Homo sapiens: one gene and its partners. The protein of the gene in region 1 interacts with the protein of each later gene in a pairwise test. Each region holds a gene or a part of one and is shown in the gene's direction. Other genes may lie near its edges. The genes, in order: PELO, BAG3, MYG1 and MAT2A.

Region 1 (7,125 bases):
AGTTTAAGTTCCATATCACTGTGACTTTATTTTGGTCAGAGAGGAAGCAATCATAGGTTCTCAAGGTATATCAACAACAACTATTAGGATAATTTCACTAGACTGTTTAATTTAATAGGCTTAAAATGAAATATGCCAATGTTACAATTGAGCACAAAACTACTTATTTTCTCTTCCTAGTTACAAGTGAAAGAAATTAATGAACAGCAGGTTTGCAGTGGAATAACAACTGTTGTATCCATTTTTGCCTCTGCAGAACATAGCCCTGGAGCCCAATATATGCCAGAAAATTAAAAATTATTGAACTAGACTAAGTTTTCCATATGAGTTAGCTTTGTGAGTTAGCCCCACTGTTTTGGGGTATATTCCCCTAAGTGCTTACATACTAAAACTTAAAAATCCAAATCTTCATAAAATCTTTGTAAAAACGGAAGCAGTTCTGTACACTTCCACCTACCCCTAACACCTGAGAGTGGAGGGGATGGGGTTGGGGTAAAACCACACTTTGATGCTACCTTAAAATGTATTTAAAATCTCATATTTGACTTTTAAAAAGAAAACATGATTTAAAAATATTTCTTATAAAAATCTGTTATTTTAGCAAACAACAATTTTTAAATTATTTATTTTTGAGTAAAATCAGCACCACCCCCACTACCCAGGTGGGAGTACCTTATTTATCCTGTAGCTTTGAGAACCTATAATCTTACTGCTAAAGAACCCTGGCATACATTAGACACGGAGTTCTAGAACCTCTTCTATTCCCCCAACCTCTTAGCGGAATGTTCTTCTCTTGTAAAAAAATTAAAAAAAAAAAAAAAAAAAAAAAACCTCTGACGGCCAGCCAATTTGAAAAGCAAATTCATGTGAACGTTATAATGGGTTCTGATGTCTTCATGCATACCCATTTTATAGAACTATCTTCAAGATAATTCCCTAATCCAAGGTAAATATTTTTAAAGCGAGGATTCCAGAAATAATAATAGGAGTTGATGGAGATATTTTTAGGCGGACATTAAAGTTCCTCTTCTGATGGCCATCAAATTTCACCACTTCCTACAGGGTCTACCACACGCAGAGCCTGCCCTGTTTACATGGTCTGTTTAATACCAATTCTTCTATTTACAGAGAAGAATGATTCATACTAACCGAGCACTTACTTTAATCCAGGCATTGTGCTAAATGCTCAGAGGCTCGGTTCATTTAATCCCCACAGCAATTCTCAGACCAGAAGTAGTACAGTATTTTCATTCCCACTTTACATTTGAGAAAACTGAGGCTTAGATAAACTTGATGACGTTTCCCAAATCACACAGCTACTATATTGTGGTTCCAGGACTTGAGTCCAAGCAGCGTAACTCCAGAACCTTACTTACTCTAGTTACTTTACTCAGTATATTAGATTAACTCCAAGAAGAATACTTTGGTTTTAAGTATATGTTTTTCTTTTTGAGATTATTGGTTAATAATCTCAATTACTCTTGCCTCATTTCATAGACATCCACTTTCCAAATTCTTAATCAGTTCAGTCTCTAATCTTTCAGTGCAGCCATCCCCAACCGTTTTGGCAGAGAGACCGGTTTCATAGAAGGCATTTTTTCCACAGACCAGGGGTAGGGGAAACGGTTTCAAGATGATTCAAACACATTACATTCATTGTGCACTTTATTCCCATTATAATTATGTTATAATATATAATGAAGTAATTATAAAACTCACCATAATGTAGAATCAGTGGGAGCCCTCAGCCTGTTTTCCTGCAACTAGACGTTTTCATCTGGGGATGATGGGAGACAGTGACAGATCATCAGGCATTAGATTCTCATAAGAAGCGTGTGCAGTTCACAATAAGGTTCATGCTCCTACTCATGCTTCCAAACCCTTAAAGAGATCTGATCAAATCAAGTCTCATTTAAAATAGAAAAGTATGTAGTATAAAGTCTAGAGCTGAAACATTTGTCATCAAGTGTCTCATATCAATAACTAGTTTGTGACTCTGGGCAAGTTTCTGTCTTCTCTAAATCTTTACTCAATGACATGTCTTTCTGTCAGTCAGAATAAAATTGGTTAAGAAAATAACCGGCTTGACATTTATTTGTATTTGGGTTTATTGAAGTTCAGAAAATAAGCACTGATTCTAAAATTAATTCTCTAACCATAGTTATCTCTCAGTCTCTACATTTGTATTGACTAGACATATAAAAGATTCATAAATATGTAAACATGTAAACATAAAATTTGTAACTTGTGAAAATTAATTGTAACAATATCACTGTTAGTGATGGTTATCACCAATAATTTGTAAGTCCTAGAGGAAATAAAAATATTAAAATTGAAATTATATATTAGCCCCCAGAAGAAAGGTAAATTTCCCAGTAATTGTAAACTTGAACATATTATATGTTAACCCTACTTTATTTCAATATTTTACAATTTCTTTTTGTTTTTTCTAATGAAATATATTGCAATTTGCTAAAATGCCATATATGTATTTGCATATGTATGTATATGCTGTACATATATATGTACACATACATACATACACATGATTGTGTATATATAGACACACTATTATATGTTTTTGAAAACTAAGCAATTTGGAGAAATATCATTGGGAAAGTACTTACTATGATTTTTAAATGTCTACGAATTAATCAATATCTATTGGTTACTGTTCAAAGCACAGAGAGTCATACTGAGAGGCATAAGACATAACTGATACTACCAACAGGGAAACGAGATATACACAGGAAATGAATTCCTTGGCAGGGTATGAGAGCATTGAACACAAACAAAGGAACTTAAGTAAAGTCCAATGGGATTGAACTGTGACCCAACATAATACAATTTTTCTAGAGACTCATTTGTGTAAATTTGAAGACAGAACTGAGAAATGACATTATAAAAACTAAAAACGGGAGAACGAGATTTTTAATGTATTTACTAAATAGTGAATCAGTTCAGATACATAATAGAAAAGGAATTTCTTGATTAATGGGTCAACATACTGAGATCTGATGGCCTTCAACCTCCTTGGGTCTGCCCACCCCATTTTTGACGCTCCTTAAACTTCTTCAACTTTTGTCTTCTCCAGCTTTTAGTTGCTGTGATCCTCTATCTGGCAATGTATCCAGTGAACCCTGTGGGCTTCTTCCTTCCTGTCCCTCGTGTTACCTGTTCTGTGCTACCTGTGTTGCGTTCTGCTCAACGAACCCTCCTTTGGGTGGCACTCTTGTCCTGCCTAGCCCTAGTTCTGCTAGAGATGCTCAATTAGTTGTTGAGTTGAAGAATTGAATTGAACTGTTTCCCTCAGATTCCTCTAAACACAAATCCACTTATTCTTTCTGTCTTTGAAATTCTCAAAACCGCTAAGACACAGCTATTTTGAAAATAGCCAGCATTGGTTGAAGCTAGGGTGAATATGGCTTTTGACTCAGAGAGGTTGTTCAACTCACCAGGAAAGGGAAGCATTGCAAGTTCCTAAGCACTTCTGGACTCTTAATGCATTTTCACTCGTGAAAGTTTCAAGCAAGAAAAAAATAAAGTAGTGCCCCGAGTTCTTTATTAGATTCAATTACCAGCGTACAAACATCCTAATTCACTTAAACAAAATAGCCCACACACATTCCATTTCCAAGGAGGCTGCTTTTCTTCCTCTCTTCCCTTCTCGCTCTCCCTCTTACTGTTTTTCCTCCGTCTTGCTTCTCCTTTTCTCCCCTTATCCTAGTTATCTCAAAGAAAAGCTTATCTGCAACCACCCTTTAACCACGAATTACCATAAACGAAGCAACCCCCCCACCCCCCCATAAGCGAAAGCAAAGCCCTCAGTGGAGCCTGTCGGGGTGGTGGGGACGCCCCCTTTCGTGCAAAACGACTTCACGGTGAATTTCAAGTGTCCGCAGGGGATGGAAGGGGGGATTCCAGATCCTCGCATTTTCACAGACGGCCTAATCCCTCTGCGCAATGGACCCGGGAAAGCTGCCTCCCGTTAAGGGCGCCCAGGCACTGTCAAAGCGCCCTCCCTGCCCGGGCCGGGAGAAGTAAGGGGTGTGAAGGCGGAGCCACTGGGCTGGCAACACCCTCCCGAAGGTCCAGCCCTTACCCGCCTTCCTACCACCTTAGGGGATTTGGCCCGGAGAACGAGATCACCCTCTCAATGAAAGGCAGATGTCCCTTTAAGGTTTGCTTCTACAGCCCGTGGACTTTAGCCTAAACACGGACCCGCGAAGCTGGCTTTATTTGTCCATGTCTCGGACAGAGCCTGGGAAGCTGCCAGTGAGATTTCAGAGACCAAGAGCGCGAAGGGGCGGGCGATGTGGCAATCCGTCTGGGATGTGAAAAGCGTGGAGCGCATTTAGAGGAATTCGACGAAAACACAGGAAATCACTCCTCTCCCGCTCCTGGGCGCCGCTGCCACTGGGGCAGAGGACTGGGAACCGCGGCAGCGGGATAAGTGGCCCAGCCAGAGAGCGCAGCTCCCGCGCCCGGTCCTGCCCTGCGAACCAGCGCGGCCCCCTGGCGCTGAGGCTGCTCCGGCCATGGCCCCTCGGCCCCGCGCCCGCCCAGGGGTCGCTGTCGCCTGCTGCTGGCTCCTCACTGGTGAGCGACTCGCTTTTCTCTGAGCATCTCCTGCTCGCGGGCTTGGGGCTTGGAGCGGGGAGGGAGGTCCTCAGAGCCATGGGCCAGATAGGAAGAGAGAGCGCCCATCCACTTTCGGGCATTCCAGGTACTCAGGCCAGGCTACGGGGCAGGCAGGAGTTTCGCGTTCTGGTTTTGATATGAATTAGTTTTCGTGTCTCTCCAAAGTCCTTCACCCTAGGAGTAGGAGTGAGGCAGCACTGAAAACCTTAGAAGGTAGAATTCACTTTTAAAATTAAAGTTGTTTTTACAATACACATTGTATATTAGGACTTTGCTGAATATTTCCTCCCCTCCACCCTTTTTTATGGCATGGGATGGGAGGGTGATGCTTATAGGGCGCCTGATACATATGCAAAATTCCTACCCTCGGGTTGTTCCAGAGTGGACATTATTGAATTTTCTTGCTGTCTACTATTTAGGCTTTTTTCCCATGCAGAACAAGAAAAGGCAGGGATGCAAGACGAAACTGCCACTTGTTCCAAAATGATGTTTCTATGTCAGCACCCAAGAGGAGGGATATTTTGAAACGTAGAAAGGAATGGTGAACATTTTCTCTGTAAATATCACAGGGCAGTCTACTTTTAAGATGCAAAATATAGTATTGTTATTTGTACATAAATGTGTATTTTTAAGGAGGGGACTTAAAAACATAGTGGAAATGCAAAGTTGTATCCAATTTAGAAAAAGCTTGAAATATAGCATTTTGTAAGATTTTCCCAATAATGAACTCATGGTCAGATCTTTTTTACCAGTTACTGATTGGGGTGGGGGAAAGTTGAAATGGTGAAAAATGGAAGAAGGTGGGGGGAAAGTGTATCGATAGAATCTCTGTGTGAAAGAAAATCACCTTATTAATGGGTTAATTAACAGCTGGCTTTAACATATCATTGATATTCAATTGTTCAGTGTTTTTACTGCTGGCATGGTTATTAGTACTAGTTAATTTAGCATTTTTACCACTAAAAACAGGGTAGAGCCAGCTAGTTTAGACCTGCCTTAGATGGCCAAGCATTGTTAAGTTTTATGAAGATGATTTAGAAGTTGATTATCAGCAAGCAGAGCTTTTTTCAGAAGGGAGGTAATGTAAAGAGAGTTAATAATTAGCTACTGGCTTTTCATCCAAACATTTCCCACTACTCAGGAAATGTCCAATAATCCAAACAGTGGTAACTGCTGAACAGCATTATAGCCGGTGAGTGGTTTAACTTACCAGCTACTGCCACTACTTTTTACACATATTTGACCTATGATTCTTCTCCAACTCAAATTTTTTTAGATTGTATTTTGTTGTTTTTGTGCAAAATCTGAATACAGTAGTTTACTATCCAAGTTGTACTTTTTCATTCTACCAAATAAGCAGTCTCTAGAGTAGAAATGATGAAATGAGGTTTGCGTATCCTCTAAAAAGACAAGAGTGAAACTTGAAGTAACAGAGAAGTTTAACAAGTTACAATTTCATATATATGTTGGTGAAATATACATTGGTGAATCCAGGAAGAGACTTAAAATATTTAGAAACCTTGTGTGCACTATATTTATGCCCATTTCGCAACACATGAGGGATCTGAAATTGGACTGCTTTCCCATCAGTCATTATATTCTGTAGGCTCTTCTTTAGCAATCTCTTTCAGATTTGGAAACTTCTCATCAATTCAGAGTCCGTTTGTAACCTGGGGACTCATCACCATACTTATCCATGCACACTACTGTAGAGCTTATCTTTCTGTCTTCAATTTGAACCCAACTTCCAGTCTACCCTCCTAATACATCATTTTTACTATATCTGTTTTTAGTCAAAAATCTTTGGTGGTTCTTTGTTGCCTTTAAGATAAAATCCAAAATTCTCAACTGACTGCCCTAATCCAACACCCTCTCTCTATCTCCTACTACTCCTATGTCAGTTTCTTATTGCTGTTGTAACAACTTGCCATAGATCACCAGCTTAAAACAACATAAATTTACTATTGTACAGTTCTGTAGGTCAGAAGTATCACTGGGCTAGAATCAAGATGTCACCAGGGCTGCATTTCTTCTGGAGGTTCTAGGGGAAAATCAGTTTCCCTGTTTTCACCAGCCTCTGGCCACCACCTGCATTCTTGGCCTGTGGCCCCTTTCTCCATCTTCAACCGAGCAGGGTAGAATCTTCAGATCTTCCCCCATGACTCTGCTTTATCATCACATCTCCTTCTCAGACTCTGACCCTACTACCTTCCTAAGGATCCTTGTAATTACAATGTGCCTACCAGAATAATCTCCTCATCTCAAGATCTTTAATTTAATTACATCTTCCAAGTCCCTTTTACCATCTAAGATAACATATTCACAGGTTCCAGGCATTAGGTCATGGATATCTTTGGGAGACCATTATTCTGCCTACCACAACCCATAAGCATAAACTGTCCATTATAGCCAATCACTTTTCTTTACTTTCTCCATAATCCTCATGTTCATTTTGCCACTGAAGATATGACCTTGTTTTATACA
Region 2 (7,042 bases), on another chromosome or scaffold:
CCGCAGCAGTAGAGATTGTCCCCTGCAAGCTCATAGATTGTTAGCCTTTGGCGTTTGTTCGCCGTGCAGACAGCTGCCTTCGTCAGGAAAGATCACTCCCCTTCTTAAGAGTTGCCTTACACAGATATATGCAAATGACACTTATCAGTAGCTCCCCTCCTGGGAAAGGACCCTCGGTGCTCGGGGACTGTTAGGACTTCTGTTGCGCAGCCCAGCTTGCTGAGAGATGGCATTGCCCAGTGAGTGACTGGCCAGCCTTGTTGTCTGAAATAAGATCTTTCCTGTGGTACATCTGGAACTTGGCCTTCTCAAGGGTCCCAAAATAGCCAGGCCACTGAAGGGAGAACTTCAAGAGAGGACATAAGAGAAGGACCCCAACTGCTCCTTGCCCAAGCAGGCTCTGTTGCGTTGAAGAAAAAGTTCTTCAGTGATACTTGTTAAAGCACAGTCAGGAAGATTTATTCGGGGCCATCAAGATAGGCACAGGGACCACGGCAGTGGGGTCGTGCAGTCATGGGTAGAGACTGGGCACAACTTCAAATACAACACGGGCGATTGGGAATTTATAGTCAAGGAGCAGTGTGGATGGAAAATTAGAAGAGGAAACATCAGGGCTAAGGGTGTTTCTGGCTATGCTGACCAAACAGGATTCTTGCCGAAGACAGGCCAGGGTGATTAGACAGCACCTGGAGGCTGTGGAAGCTGATCAGATAGTGAGGCTGGGGAGGGGGTTTCTGGCTAAACTGACTTAGCAGTGTCTTTTGCTAAAACTTGACTTTACAAGGAAGTGCACAGATGGGCCTAGGAGATGCTTCGGAAGCCTAAGATTTGGTCAAGCAGAGAATCTTTGTCAGTTGGCATCGTTAGGCGACACAGTTAACCCTGGGTGCCCCTCTCTCCCTATGCTGCCTCTGCATCCCTGTCCTTCCCCTTCCTGCAAATTGTTCTAACAATACTCCTGAGGAGGCAGCCCTCGCTCCCCAGCCCACTTCTCTGTAAAGATTCCCAAACTGTGTCCTGTGTTTGGGCCCAGTACAAGCTCTATATTGCTGGGAAATGTGAGGGCCTTTTTGGAAACAGAGACGCTTGCTGTAATGTAGAGGTTGGAGCTGACCCCTGCTCCTGGAGCTCATCTTCTGATCCGGGTCTCTGAAAATGCGGGCATGGGCAGCTCTCCTACACTCACCGCTTCCCTCAGTCACCCAGAAAAGAAACCTGTCTTACCAGTTTGGAGAATTGGGACCTTTCCTTTGCTTAACAGATACTTTTGGCTTTCTCCTGATGCCCCTAATTCCTAAACTGTTGGCCAAATAGCAACCTCTATGGGGTGGGGGGTTTGGAGGGTACAGGGGCTGGGAGCTGGCTGACGCTTTGAGGCCCAAGTCACTCGGGAAGATCACAATGCCAAGCGCCACAGTGTTTCCTCTGCCAGGAGGGTTCACTTCCCAGTTTCTAACCAGCCTGTGTTTCTCCACTTTTTATTTCAGGAGACTCCATCCTCTGCCAATGGCCCTTCCCGGGAGGGCTCTAGGCTGCCGCCTGCTAGGGAAGGCCACCCTGTGTACCCCCAGCTCCGACCAGGCTACATTCCCATTCCTGTGCTCCATGAAGGCGCTGAGAACCGGCAGGTGCACCCTTTCCATGTCTATCCCCAGCCTGGGATGCAGCGATTCCGAACTGAGGCGGCAGCAGCGGCTCCTCAGAGGTCCCAGTCACCTCTGCGGGGCATGCCAGAAACCACTCAGCCAGATAAACAGTGTGGACAGGTGGCAGCGGCGGCGGCAGCCCAGCCCCCAGCCTCCCACGGACCTGAGGTAAGGAGAGGCCAGGCTCACCAGCCTGCTGGGGAGCAAGCCGCTGTGCTTCCCAGGCCGGGCCCATCCCCTCAGGACAGTGCCCTGGGCCAGGCACCTGTTCACATGCAGGGCATCTGGGTCTAGCCTGCAGCATCAGAGGTCACCCAGCAAAGACAGGGTGATGGCCCCACATCATCCCCCAGCATCTCATAGGGCTGTTCTTCAGTGGGGCAGGGCAGGAATCATGTGGCTTCTTTTTGTAGCTAAGGAACGGCTCGGAAGGGCACACTGCAGCCTGCCTGCTCCAGATGCACACAGGTGGAGGGAGCAGAGCTGGGACCGGAAGCCTGGCCTGCCTTCTGGCGCCTAATTTCCATGCTCCTTATTCACACTGGGCTTTCTATTCAGAAGCACAGAGATAGCTGTGCATTATTTTGTTCAGTTCAATGCTTATGGATAAATCTTAACCGCTTGTGGAGCTATGTTGACAGGAAAATGAGACCCCATGCCTGCCCTCACCGTGCACCACAGTTTCAAAAGAAATAAGGAGTCAGGAAGGCAGCTGCTTTAAGACAGCATTTTAATCCTGAAGCCAAACATCTCAGGGATATGTCAATGGATTCTGTGCATTAATAGCTAAAAAATAGTTCTTAATCTGGTTCTTAGCTGAGATTTGAGGCATTCCTAGTAGGATTCCTAAGCAGTAAGTCCTCTCATTTTCCTGTCTGCACATCATCCTGTGGTGTGTGCCAGCGTTGTTCCTGGGCACAAACTCCCGTGTCCTATCTGCACCCTGAGTCATGCTTGCCTCTCAGCTCCGTCTGAATCTGTTCAGCTTCACACCTGCTTGAGAGTGAAAGTTACAGTTAATGTGGGATACCTTTTTTCTTTTCTTAGAGAGGTAGTACCTGGCTGAGGCAGGTGGATCACTTGAGGCCAGGAATTCAAGACCAGCCTGGCTAACACGGTGAAACCCCGTCTCTACAAAAAATACAAAAATTAGCCGGGCATGGTGGCACATTCCTGTAATCCCAGCTACTCAGGAGGCTGAGGCAGGAGAATTGCTTAAACCCAGGAGGCAGAGGTTGCAGTGAGCCGAGATCGCACCACTGCACTCCAGCCTAGGTGATAGAGCGAGACTGTCTCAAAAATAAAAAAATAAGTAATGCCTATATTTATAATGGTTTTGCTGCAAGAAATCAAAGTGACACATAAATGCGAGACATCTTCACAAATTTAGGCTAACAAAGCACTTAGAAGAGGAAATGCTCTCAATTTCGAGGTGAATAGAAGGTGGCCCAGCAGGGAAAGGTGCTTGACCTGCCTTGGGCCACACGGGATGCTGGCAGCTCCCAGTTGCTCAGCCGAGTTCTCTGTAGATTGGCAGAGAAAGGGTAGTGGGGACAACACATCCCTTGTATGAGCGCTTCCTGTGTGCTGGCCTGGGGCTGAGGCACATGCCCAGGTGACTGACCTCATCTTCAGAGCAGCCCAGTGAGGGAGGGGCACTCTTCCTATATTTCAAATGAAGCTTAGAAAATGATTGAATTACTAGGAATTTGAACATAGGCCCCTTGATTCCAAAGCCTTCAGTCTTTGTTGTGTGTGTGTGTGTTTTGTTTTGTTTTGTTTTGTTTTGCTTTGTTTGAGGTGGAGTCTCTCTCTGTTGCCCAGACTGGAGTGCAGTGGTGTGATCTCAAATCACTGCAACCTCTGCCTCCTAGGTTCAAGCAATTCCCCTGCCTCAGCCTCCTGAGTAGCTGGCACTACAGGCATGCGCCGCCACACCCAGCTAATTTTTGTATTTTTGGTAGAGATGGGGTTTCACCATGTTGGCCAGGCTGCTCTTGAACTCCTGACCTCAGGTGGTCCACTCACCTAGGCCTCCCAAAGTGCTGGGATTACAGGTGTGAGCCACCGCGCCCAGCCCCAGAGCTCTCAGTCTTAACCGCACATTTTGAAAATTGAAAATTACAGATAGGAGGTCTTACAATATGGATTGCCCTGAGGAGGTGCACAGCAGAAGGCGTGGTCAGGATGCCAAGCCAGGGGAGTCATTTGTGGGGTCATGCCCTCTACCCTGTGTCTCTTGCAGCGGTCCCAGTCTCCAGCTGCCTCTGACTGCTCATCCTCATCCTCCTCGGCCAGCCTGCCTTCCTCCGGCAGGAGCAGCCTGGGCAGTCACCAGCTCCCGCGGGGGTACATCTCCATTCCGGTGATACACGAGCAGAACGTTACCCGGCCAGCAGCCCAGCCCTCCTTCCACCAAGCCCAGAAGACGCACTACCCAGCGCAGCAGGGGGAGTACCAGACCCACCAGCCTGTGTACCACAAGATCCAGGGGGATGACTGGGAGCCCCGGCCCCTGCGGGCGGCATCCCCGTTCAGGTCATCTGTCCAGGGTGCATCGAGCCGGGAGGGCTCACCAGCCAGGAGCAGCACGCCACTCCACTCCCCCTCGCCCATCCGTGTGCACACCGTGGTCGACAGGCCTCAGGTACGGGAAGTTAGTCGTCAGCAGACTGGTTATGGTGGTATGTCTCCAGGGGTGCAGGAGCTCTGTGGGTGCCCTGGGTTCCCCCTTCATCCCTGCCTATTTAACATGCGTGTACCTACAGGCAAGTGAGATTCGAGAAATTGCTAGGTATTAACAGAAATGCAGGACAGTTGCTCAGGCTGTGAACCCTCCGCACTCTGCAGCTTTTGCTGGGCTGATCATTGTGCATTGCGGCTGACTTAGAGCAGACGAAACAGCTTGGCAGAACTTACATACCTGGGACCAGCTTCCTTAGTGTCCACCACACCCTTTCAGGGCTCTTCACACCCCCATCCACACCGCAGCCACAGCCTCACCTTGGGTGTAGGCAGTGTGTCACCTTCCACTCAGTTACCCACTCCACTCTGCAGGCCCATTCTGCTCATTCCCACCCCTGTGCCTTTGCCCATGCTGAACCCGCTCCCTGAAATGCCCGCACAGTATAGGTTCTCCCTGTCCTCTGAGGGACGAGCCAGTCTTGTCTCCTCCATGAAGCCTACTCATCCTTCTCATCTCATGATGCCTCATATGAGTCCCTTAATGAGAACTCCCAACTTGTATGAGTTCAACATGTCATTATTCGGGGCATTTCAGAAGTGTTCATTTTATCTCTTCAGCTTAGGGCTGAGCCTGACCACAGGGCCCATGTCTTAACCCCCCTCCTCCCTTTGTAATCAGGTACCATGTGGTCTGGCTGAGGCATCAGCCAGCTATGGCGGATTGGAAGCCGTGCTGGCCTGGGGAAGGTTGTAGGCAGGGGTCTGGTTATCTTCCAGTGGAGACACAAGGTGCAGGTTCCTGGAAGAGGATGTCATTTAGTTTAAGCAGCTCACAGCTTAGCAGCAGGACAGTCAGCAGCCCTGGGCCCCCTGTGGCTGCAACTTGAGCAGCTGAATGCTACAGTTTTTAAAAAGGAAAGCCCCCCGTGAACAAATGTGGGATATTCTTTCATTACAAATGGTCACACTGGCCAGGGCCCTGGAATAGAGCACCCTCATCTTAAAATGTTGTTTTATTTGGAAATAATTTCAATCTCATAGAAGAGTTGTGTGAATCATACAGAGCCCCACATATACTTCATCCAGTTCACTGTTTGTCAATATGTCTGCATTCGCCTTGTCATTTCTTCTCTCGTATATTATTGATGTGTTTTAACTGTTTGAAAATTAATTGCAGACATCATGTCCCTTTTCCCCTGAATAGCAAATATTTTCCTAAGAGGAAGACATTCTCGTTCATAACCATGGTAGACTTACCAGATTCAGGAAATTTCACATTCTTACAACATTATTATCCAGTACATTTTTGAATCTTTTTTATAGCAGTTTGCCCCCACTTCCAGGATGTCTTCCAGGACTGAAACAAGGATCATGAGCACCGCATTTAGATGCAACTTCTCTTCAGTCTTCCCTCAGCCTTTCTTTGCTTTCACGGCCTTGACGGTTTTGAAGAACACAGGCTGTGGAACACCCTCTCTAAAGTGTTTCTAAAGTCACTTCTTACACAGCCATTGCTGTTAGAACCTAGGAGGGGTGCGTGGTTGGGTTGTGAGTGGTAAGGGCCAAAGTTGCGAATGTCTGCATTGGCGAAAGAGATTTGATGGAAAAGGAGGTTGCTGGAGTGTAGACAGCTACATCGATCCATACTTGGGTTCAGCAATCCTAGGAGGGTCCCATTTGTAGAGAGAGGGATATTTTCTCCACATCATTCCCATGTGTTTCTCATCATCAGTGAAATGATATTTCATCCTGTTCTTACCATTAACCGTGTTTGTGGTGACCTCCCTTTTAGAGCTGATTCAAAGTTCCCTTTTGGGAGGCTTTCCAGGATTTCACCAAACTGAACGTTATAGTGGAATTGAGTGTTTTAAGCTGGGAATAGTTTAGAAATAATATAGTCCAGTTATTTCCCAGTTGATGAAATTAGGGTGAGATTTTAAAAGAAGTGTTAGATATTCACTTACATGAATAAGAGCCAAGATAAGGCCAAGCGCAGTGGCTCACGCCTGTAATCCTGTAATCCTAGCACTTTGGGAGGCCGAGGCGGGGGTATCACTTAAGGTCAGGAGTTCAAGACTAGCCTGGCCAACATGGTGAAACCCCATCTCTACTAAAAATACAAAAAAAAAAGTTAACCAGGCATGTTGGTGGGCGCCTGTAATCCCAGCTACTCGGGAGGCTGGGGTGGGAGGATTGCTTGAACTTGGGAGGCAGAGGTTGCAGTGAACTGAGATCACACCACTGCACACTCCAGCCTGGGTGACAGAGCGAGGCTCCGTCTCAAAAACAAAAACAAAAACAAAAAGCGTCAAGATATTTTTGCTTTGAGCATAGCTCATTAAAAAATATATGGCTTACTAGGCGTGGTGGCTCACACCTATAATCCTAGCACTTTGGGAGGCCGAGGTGGGCAGATTGCTTGAGCTTAGAAATTCAAGACCAGCCTGGGCAGCATGGTGAAACCCTGTCTCTACAAAAAAATAGAAAAATTAGCCAGGCATGATGGTATGTGCCTGTAGTTGCAACTAATCATGAAGCTAAGGTGAGAGGATCACTTGAGGCCAGAAGGTTGAGGCTGCATTGAGCTGTGATAGCCCCGCTGCACTCCAGCCTGGGCAACAGAGTGAGACCCTGTCCCCCACAAAAATCTATATATCTATATGGCTGTAGTTTATAGTCACAGGAAAACCTGTGCAGCCAGAGGTTAGCAC
Region 3 (5,025 bases), on another chromosome or scaffold:
TGTCTCTCAGCCATCATTCATGTTGTTCTCTCTGCTTGGAATGCTTTTTCTCTTTCACCCCTTGTCTATCTGGTGGACACCCACTAATTCATCTTTCAGAACTGACCTGAAGGCTCTCCTCTGAACCCTTTCCTCATCCCTTCCTTCCTTTCCCTTGTCTCGTCTAGTGAGAGTACTCAGGGGGTTGTGTTTGTCGGCCTCCGGCAGATGAATCTGAAAGCAAGGACAGTGTCTTGGTTTTTTATCCTTAATGTCTAATAAAACATAAAATGTGGCAGATAGGAAGCATTGAGTTAACCATTGAATGAATGCATGGAGACTCTAGCCAAGGTCCCTCACCTCAGCCCCACCTCCCTATGCTCCTCAGGTCTTTCACAGAGACCATGAGCTCCCTGTCCCCTGGGAAGCCGTGGCAGACCAAGCTGAGCAGTGCGGGACTCATCTATCTGCACTTCGGGCACAAGCTGCTGGCCCAGTTGCTGGGCACTAGTGAAGAGGACAGCATGGTGGGCACCCTCTATGACAAGGTGGGGACCTGAGGACAGAGATGCCCCCCACATGCATTTCCAGCAGGCCGCCTGGGAGCAGTGCTCACACAGCACTCAGCACTGGGCCTCGGGTCAGGGTTCCTGGCCTATAGCAGGCCCAACACTCATCCTCTCCCTCAGTCAGGCTCATCTCACAAGGGAATGGTGATACCTCCCCTGTCTACATCCTGGGGTGGTTGTGAGAAGTGGATGCTGTAATATATGGGGAAGGGCTTTGAAAACCATAAAGCAGCATGGCCCCGTCTTTTTATTGACACACACAAACAGCAATTGCTCAGCACCTTTGGGTAAACAGAGGGGAGGCTGCTTATGTGTGGAAGCAGATGGCTCAGAGGTTCTGGCTGCCCTGAAGGTTGAGGGGAGTGTATGTTAGGCACCACTGTAGTTCACTAGTGGCACATAAATTGGGAAGCTCAGCTGAGAAGAGTTTTATTATGAAACTGTCTTTGGATTCCACCAGTGTCCCCTGCAAGCAGCTTCCTGCTCTTAGGGAAAGAATATGGCTAGTGGCCCTGGCATGCAAGTCAGGTCGCACAGTACTGAGGACACTTACTTGTTTACAAGTCAAAGCCCAGGTTCAGTCAGCTGTATTTCTTGCAGGTAGGCTGTTGAATTCAGTTCTCAGTTTTTTTGTTGTTTTTTGTTTTGAGATGGAGTCTTGCTCTGTCGCCCAGGCTGGAGTGCAGTGGCGCAATCTTGGCTCACTGCAAGCTCCGCCTCCCGGGTTCACGCCATTCTCCTGCCTCAGCCTCCCGAGTAGCTGGGACTACAGGCGCCCATCACCATGCCCGGCTAATTTTTTGTATTTTTAGTAGAGGTGGGGTTTCACCGTGTTAGCCAGGATGGTCTTGATCTCCTGACCTCGTGATCTGCCCACCTCAGCCTCCCAAAGTGCTGGGATTACAGGTCTGAGCCACTGCACCCGGCCCATCAGTTCTCAGTTTTAGCTTGCCCATTTTCTGCCCTCTGTAACTATAGAGTTTTTGGAATATCAAGATTTTAGACTGCCTGGGTCAGTTTTCCCTTCCACTGCTGAAGGGTTTCTAAACAACTGACTAAATTTTTGTTGTTGTTTTTTTTTGTTTTTTTGAGACGGGGTCTTGCTCTGTCATCCAGGCTGGAGTGCAGTGGCACAATCTCAGCTCACTGCTACCTCCGCCTCCTGGGTTCAAGCGATTCTCCTGCCTCAGCCTCCCAAGTAGGTGAGATTACAGGCGCCTGCCACCACGCCTGGCTAATTTTTTATTTTTAGTAGAAACGGGGTTTCACCGTGTTAGCCAGGCTGGTCTCAAACTCCTGACCTCAAGTAACGCACCCACCTTGGCCTCCCAAAGTGCTGGGATTACAGGCGTGAGCCACTAATCCCAGCAACAATTGACTAAATTTAACCCGTATTTTTTTTTGAGAGACTGTTGCCCAGGTTGGAGTCCAGTGGTGCCATCATGGCTTGCTGCTGCTTTGAACTCCTGGGCTCAAGCAGTCTTCCCACCTCAGCCCCCCAAGTAGCTGAGACTACAGGTGCATGCCACCATGCCTGGCTAATTATATATCTTAATTTTTTTGTAGAGAGGGTCTTGCTATGCTGCCCAGGCTGGACTCAAAAACTCCTGGGCTCAAGTGATCCTCCCACCTCAGCCTAAACCCATGTTTTTTTTTTTTTTTTTTTTTTTTTGAGACGGAGTCTCGCTCTGTCGCCCAGGCTGGAGTGCAGTGGCGGGATCTCGGCTCACTGCAAGCTGCGCCTCCCAGGTTCACGCCATTGTCCTGCCTCAGCCTCCCAAGTAGCTGGGACTACAGGCGCCCGCCACTACGCCCGGCTAATTTTTTGTATTTTTAGTAGAGACGGGGTTTCACCGTTTTAGCCGGGATGGTCTCGATCTCCTGACCTCGTGATCCGCCCGCCTCGGCCTCCCAAAGTGCTGGGATTACAGGCGTGAGCCACCGCGCCCGGCCTAAACCCATGTTTTAACTGAGCATCAGGTTGGGATCCAAACCAAGAAGAGCTGGGCATAGGAGTTACTTTCTCAGTGCTCTGAGAGTAGCACTTTTCTACATACCACAGGTGTACTGTTATGGAGGCCTATTTTGTAGGGTAATTTTGCATAAAGTTTCTGCCCCGAGACTCTTGAGGCATTATCCTACCATTTATTCAGACCCAGGAGACAACTGCTGATGTCATGAGGCACATTATGGGCTTCCCTGGAACCCTAACCCAGCAACCAGCTTTTGGTGTCTAGTCTCACACTCATTTTCTCCCACTTGACTTGTGTTCTCAACCAGAGCCGCTCCTGCACCTCATTAACCGTGTCACTGAATACCTACTCACCCCACCTGGAGATTTACCAGCCTTCAGCCACAGGGACCCACTCCCACAGAGAGCCTCTAGCACCTAGAGACCTTCCTTGTTCAAAAGTTAGCAGTCCCCTCCCTACACGTGTTGGCTTTGGTTTGGGCTTTGTGCAGCAGAATGAGCATGGATTAGAAATCAGGTGATCTGAATTCCAGTCACAGCACAACGAGCTGTCTGAGCTTCAGCGAGCTGCTGAACTTGCCAATTCTCCCTTTTCTCATCCAGTTAATGTTGAGAGATCCTCACAGGGCTGAAAGAGTGTGTATGAACATACTTTGAATCATGTAAGATTTCACATAAGTAGCAGGTAGCCTCAAGAAGGTTTCCCCTGCTGCTGCCTTAGATGTATGAGAACTTTGTGGAGGAGGTGGATGCTGTGGACAATGGGATCTCCCAGTGGGCAGAGGGGGAGCCTCGATATGCACTGACCACTACCCTGAGTGCACGAGTTGCTCGACTTAATCCTACCTGGAACCACCCCGACCAAGACACTGAGGTAAGGTGGCCTGGGAGGAGACCCGGAGACCTGTAAGAACCTTGGGTGGGGGGAAAATGGGAGCATTTGCTCCTCCTAAGCCCTAGCAAATTCCAAGTTTGGGCCAGCATCATGGTTCTAATTCTCATCATTCCCAGGCAGGGTTCAAGCGTGCAATGGATCTGGTTCAAGAGGAGTTTCTGCAGAGATTAGATTTCTACCAACACAGCTGGCTGCCAGCCCGGGCCTTGGTGGAAGAGGCCCTTGCCCAGCGATTCCAGGTATAGGCCTTGGAGGAGGCATTATGGCTTGAGGATTACTGACTGCCAATCAACAGGAACTCCTGCTTCTTCTACCCTAAACCCTGGAGTGCAGTGGCAGACAACCTCAACCTCTTAGGCTCAAGCAGTCCTCCCACCTCAGCCTCCTGAGTAGCTGGGACTACAGGCACACACCACCTCACCCAGCTAATTTTTGTATTTTTTGTAGAGACAGGGTCTTACTTTGTTGCCTAGGCTAGTCTCAAATTCCTGGGCTCAACTGATCCTCCCACCTCAGCCTCCCAAAATGTTGTGACTACAAACATGATCACCATGCCCAGCCTACCTTAAACCTTCTAGCTATGCTCTCCCTCTTTCAGGTGGACCCAAGTGGAGAGATTGTGGAACTGGCGAAAGGTGCATGTCCCTGGAAGGAGCATCTCTACCACCTGGAATCTGGGCTGTCCCCTCCAGTGGCCATCTTCTTTGTTATCTACACTGACCAGGCTGGACAGTGGCGAATACAGTGTGTGCCCAAGGAGCCCCACTCATTCCAAAGCCGGTGAGGCCCTAGGGAACCACTCTGCAGACCTTCAGGCTTGTCTCAGCCTTGTTAAGAGAAGGCTGCCAACTCTGACCCCTGCTGTACTCCCTCTTTCTGCCCAGGCTGCCCCTGCCAGAGCCATGGCGGGGTCTTCGGGACGAGGCCCTGGACCAGGTCAGTGGGATCCCTGGCTGCATCTTCGTCCATGCAAGCGGCTTCACTGGCGGTCACCACACCCGAGAGGGTGCCTTGAGCATGGCCCGTGCCACCTTGGCCCAGCGCTCATACCTCCCACAAATCTCCTAGTCTAATAAAACCTTCCATCTCATACTGACCCAGTCCTTGACTTATTCTTGCCCTACACCATTCCAGAAACTTGTGAAAAGTGAAACAACTATTTATGTGTAAGACCCTGTGCTAGATATATTTTCTTCACAGTAACTTCTCAGCCTTGCTTCCCAAATCATTTGAAACCATAGTTTCTAGGATTAAATAACGTGACCAAATTCACAAGTGGCTAAAAAGTGACAGAACAGGGCCTTAACCCAAAGTCCATGCTTTTTTCCCCTACTGTACCCCACTGCAACTCCCTGGAAAAGACAGACTGGTAACTGAGTGGAAAACAAAAGGAAAACTTATTTATTCTTAGAGGTGGGAATGTGGGGAGTGGGGCAGAACAGGTGGTGGCCCTGGGAGAGGGTCCCAAGGGGCAGAGGTTGGGGATGTCTCAGTAAAGAGGGGCAGGTCATGAATAGAGCCTCCACCCCCAGCAGGGGGTTCCTGGGCCCGCCCAAGCACTGGGCTAAAACGTGGAAACTGGGCATTGACAAAGTACAGCGGGATGTGGG
Region 4 (3,656 bases), on another chromosome or scaffold:
ATGTTCTGATGACCTGTGTTGCCTTCAAGGTTACTGTGCAGTATATGCAGGATCGAGGTGCTGTGCTTCCCATCAGAGTCCACACAATTGTTATATCTGTTCAGCATGATGAAGAGGTTTGTCTTGATGAAATGAGGGATGCCCTAAAGGAGAAAGTCATCAAAGCAGTTGTGCCTGCGAAATACCTTGATGAGGATACAATCTACCACCTACAGCCAAGTGGCAGATTTGTTATTGGTGGGCCTCAGGTAATGTCATTTTGTTGCATTTTTCTGGATTTTTGATGGTTACTTAAAATTTTGGCTACTACATTTTTTTCAGGCTTTCTGAAACCTACATGTGAATCATCGGAGGATATTTGCTGAATGAATTCAGAATAGGCAACCTAATCCACTTGGAAAGCACTAGGCGTAAAGTAACTTAAATCCTGTAATTTCAGGGTGATGCTGGTTTGACTGGACGCAAAATCATTGTGGACACTTATGGCGGTTGGGGTGCTCATGGAGGAGGTGCCTTTTCAGGAAAGGATTATACCAAGGTCGACCGTTCAGCTGCTTATGCTGCTCGTTGGGTGGCAAAATCCCTTGTTAAAGGAGGTCTGTGCCGGAGGGTTCTTGTTCAGGTATACACTCTTTATATAACGAACGATTAAAAGTCATGTAAGTGGGAGGGTATTTAGTAGTAATCTACTTAACTACTTGTTTTATACCAACGTATTATACAAGTATATGGGTCTTTGCAATCACTGATTCTTACGACATTTGAATCCTTTTAGGTCTCTTATGCTATTGGAGTTTCTCATCCATTATCTATCTCCATTTTCCATTATGGTACCTCTCAGAAGAGTGAGAGAGAGCTATTAGAGATTGTGAAGAAGAATTTCGATCTCCGCCCTGGGGTCATTGTCAGGTAAAGATGGTAAAGCCTGTTGCTAGTCAAGTATTGAGGGTGTTGGGTGTGTGTGTATATACTTAAGGCTGAGGAGGTGAAGGTGTGAAGGAAGACTCCTCAAATGGGAATATATTTTAATTCCTGGAACAGTTTTGAACTGCTGCCTTAGTGAAGACTTAGTTATTTGAGAAATTTAAAATTACGGTGCTCCATGGCTTAGGCTAACCACTCTAGAGAATGTTCCAGATTTGATATTTGAGCTTTGTGCTCTTCTACTTAAGGGTGTTAAGAAAATAGAGATAAAGTGGGTTGCTCAAGGTTTGTTGCAATGTAAAAACCATGGTAGGGTGTGGGCGGCGGGACCTTGGTAAGTATTGTGTGATCTCAGGTGAGCTTTTTGACAATTGAAATTTCTCAGAATAATGACAAGTTTTCGTATTTGTTGAGCCAGGGACGGAAAAACAACTATAGTTACTAATAAGGACTGTGCAAGGAGTTTGGACACCAGGGAAGTAACACTTTTGCCACAAATTTTTTTCCTAGCATATCCCAGAGAACTCATTTGCCAGAGCTCTTGAAAATGAGTCTTGCTGATTGTTTTGCTTTATTTTAATTTAATGCTACATATTAAGTTACGGACTTGTATATTCCAGGGATCTGGATCTGAAGAAGCCAATTTATCAGAGGACTGCAGCCTATGGCCACTTTGGTAGGGACAGCTTCCCATGGGAAGTGCCCAAAAAGCTTAAATATTGAAAGTGTTAGCCTTTTTTCCCCAGACTTGTTGGCGTAGGCTACAGAGAAGCCTTCAAGCTCTGAGGGAAAGGGCCCTCCTTCCTAAATTTTCCTGTCCTCTTTCAGCTCCTGACCAGTTGCAGTCACTCTAGTCAATGACATGAATTTTAGCTTTTGTGGGGGACTGTAAGTTGGGCTTGCTATTCTGTCCCTAGGTGTTTTGTTCACCATTATAATGAATTTAGTGAGCATAGGTGATCCATGTAACTGCCTAGAAACAACACTGTAGTAAATAATGCTTTGAAATTGAACCTTTGTGCCCTATCACCCAACGCTCCAAAGTCATAATTGCATTGACTTTCCCCACCAGATGCTGAAAATGTCCTTGTGATGTGCACGTAAAGTACTTGTAGTTCCACTTATAGCCTCTGTCTGGCAATGCCACAGCCCTGTCAGCATGAATTTGTAATGTCTTGAGCTCTATTATGAATGTGAAGCCTTCCCCTTATCCTCCCTGTAACTTGATCCATTTCTAATTATGTAGCTCTTTGTCAGGGAGTGTTCCCTATCCAATCAATCTTGCATGTAACGCAAGTTCCCAGTTGGAGCTCCAGCCTGACATCAAAAAAGGCAGTTACCATTAAACCATCTCCCTGGTGCTTATGCTCTTAATTGCCACCTCTAACAGCACCAAATCAAAATCTCTCCACTTTCAGCTGTCTTTTGGAGGACGTACGTAATAAGGTTTTAATTTAGTAAACCAATCCTATGCATGGTTTCAGCACTAGCCAAACCTCACCAACTCCTAGTTCTAGAAAAACAGGCACTTGGCAGCCTTGTGATGTCATACAGAGAAGTCACAGGGCAGTACCTGAGGGTCTGTAGGTTGCACACTTTGGTACCAGATAACTTTTTTTTTTCTTTATAAGAAAGCCTGAGTACTCCACACTGCACAATAACTCCTCCCAGGGTTTTAACTTTGTTTTATTTTCAAAACCAGGTCCAATGAGCTTTCTGAACAGCTGGTGTAGCTACAGAGAAACCAGCTTCCTTCAGAGAGCAGTGCTTTTGGCGGGGAGGAGGAAATCCCTTCATACTTGAACGTTTTCTAATTGCTTATTTATTGTATTCTGGGGTATGGCGTAAGTACAGAGAAGCCATCACCTCAGATGGCAGCTTTTAAAAGATTTTTTTTTTTTCTCTCAACACCATGATTCCTTTAACAACATGTTTCCAGCATTCCCAGGTAGGCCAAGGTGTCCTACAGAAAAACCTTGGGTTAGACCTACAGGGGGTCTGGCTGGTGTTAACAGAAGGGAGGGCAGAGCTGGTGCGGCTGGCCATGGAGAAAGCTGACTTGGCTGGTGTGGTACAGAGAAGCCAGCTTGTTTACATGCTTATTCCATGACTGCTTGCCCTAAGCAGAAAGTGCCTTTCAGGATCTATTTTTGGAGGTTTATTACGTATGTCTGGTTCTCAATTCCAACAGTTTAATGAAGATCTAAATAAAATGCTAGGTTCTACCTTAACTGTGTCTGTTACTCATTTGTTAAAGTGCTTTGGGGCCATAGGTACGTGCCTATAATCCCAACACTTTGAAAGGCTGAGGTAGGAGGATCACTTTAACATAGAAGTTGGAGGCTGTAGCGAACCATTATCAAGCCACTGCACTCCAGCCTGGGTGACTGAGACTTTGGCTCTTAAAAAATGCTATCATATGAATAACCTGAGAATACTATATGTGTATCTTTAACCTTGAATTGTAATCCATAATTAGCCATAATTCAGGAAAATAACCTCAATCCCTAGACCCAGTGGGTGGGCATTTTTTAAAAGCCTAAGCAAGATTTAGTCCTCCTAGTCCACTTAAGCCAAAATTCATGTGTCCTTATTGCAGCAGCCATTCAATGCCATTTTTAAGTTTTCAACTAAGGTTGAGGGCTTCAAACCATTGAAGGCATAAAAACCGCTAAAAGTATTAACCTGGAAGTGGTAATGTCTATCTAAAGTCCTGGCAATTTAAGCCTATT

What was found.
Region 2: the proteins of PELO (region 1) and BAG3 interact in binary tests that used the Homo sapiens proteins (3 or more experiments, as listed by UniProt).
Region 3: the proteins of PELO (region 1) and MYG1 interact in binary tests that used the Homo sapiens proteins (3 or more experiments, as listed by UniProt).
Region 4: the proteins of PELO (region 1) and MAT2A interact in binary tests that used the Homo sapiens proteins (3 or more experiments, as listed by UniProt).

Annotation. Positions count from the first base shown.
Region 1 is NC_000005.10:52,783,816-52,790,940, forward strand, and holds the start of PELO (protein pelota homolog), read left to right. Parts: upstream 1-4,100; 5' UTR 4,101-4,538; coding exon of another isoform or gene 4,539-4,599; intron 4,600-7,125. Other genes in the region: ITGA1 (integrin alpha-1 precursor), read left to right, coding at 4,539-4,599. UniProt on the Homo sapiens protein: Component of the Pelota-HBS1L complex, a complex that recognizes stalled ribosomes and triggers the No-Go Decay (NGD) pathway.
Region 2 is NC_000010.11:119,668,364-119,675,405, forward strand, and holds part of BAG3 (BAG family molecular chaperone regulator 3), read left to right. Parts: intron 1-1,487; coding exon 1,488-1,814; intron 1,815-3,891; coding exon 3,892-4,293; intron 4,294-7,042. UniProt on the Homo sapiens protein: Co-chaperone and adapter protein that connects different classes of molecular chaperones including heat shock proteins 70 (HSP70s), e.g. HSPA1A/HSP70 or HSPA8/HSC70, and small heat shock proteins (sHSPs), e.g. HSPB8.
Region 3 is NC_000012.12:53,302,667-53,307,691, forward strand, and holds the end of MYG1 (MYG1 exonuclease precursor), read left to right. Parts: intron 1-367; coding exon 368-527; intron 528-3,241; coding exon 3,242-3,394; intron 3,395-3,531; coding exon 3,532-3,654; intron 3,655-4,013; coding exon 4,014-4,195; intron 4,196-4,299; coding exon 4,300-4,483; 3' UTR 4,484-4,511; downstream 4,512-5,025. Other genes in the region: AAAS (aladin), read right to left, coding at 4,823-5,025. UniProt on the Homo sapiens protein: 3'-5' RNA exonuclease which cleaves in situ on specific transcripts in both nucleus and mitochondrion. Involved in regulating spatially segregated organellar RNA processing, acts as a coordinator of nucleo-mitochondrial crosstalk.
Region 4 is NC_000002.12:85,542,126-85,545,781, forward strand, and holds the end of MAT2A (S-adenosylmethionine synthase), read left to right. Parts: intron 1-29; coding exon 30-248; intron 249-439; coding exon 440-622; intron 623-775; coding exon 776-909; intron 910-1,544; coding exon 1,545-1,647; 3' UTR 1,648-3,156; downstream 3,157-3,656. UniProt on the Homo sapiens protein: Catalyzes the formation of S-adenosylmethionine from methionine and ATP. The reaction comprises two steps that are both catalyzed by the same enzyme: formation of S-adenosylmethionine (AdoMet) and triphosphate, and subsequent hydrolysis of the triphosphate.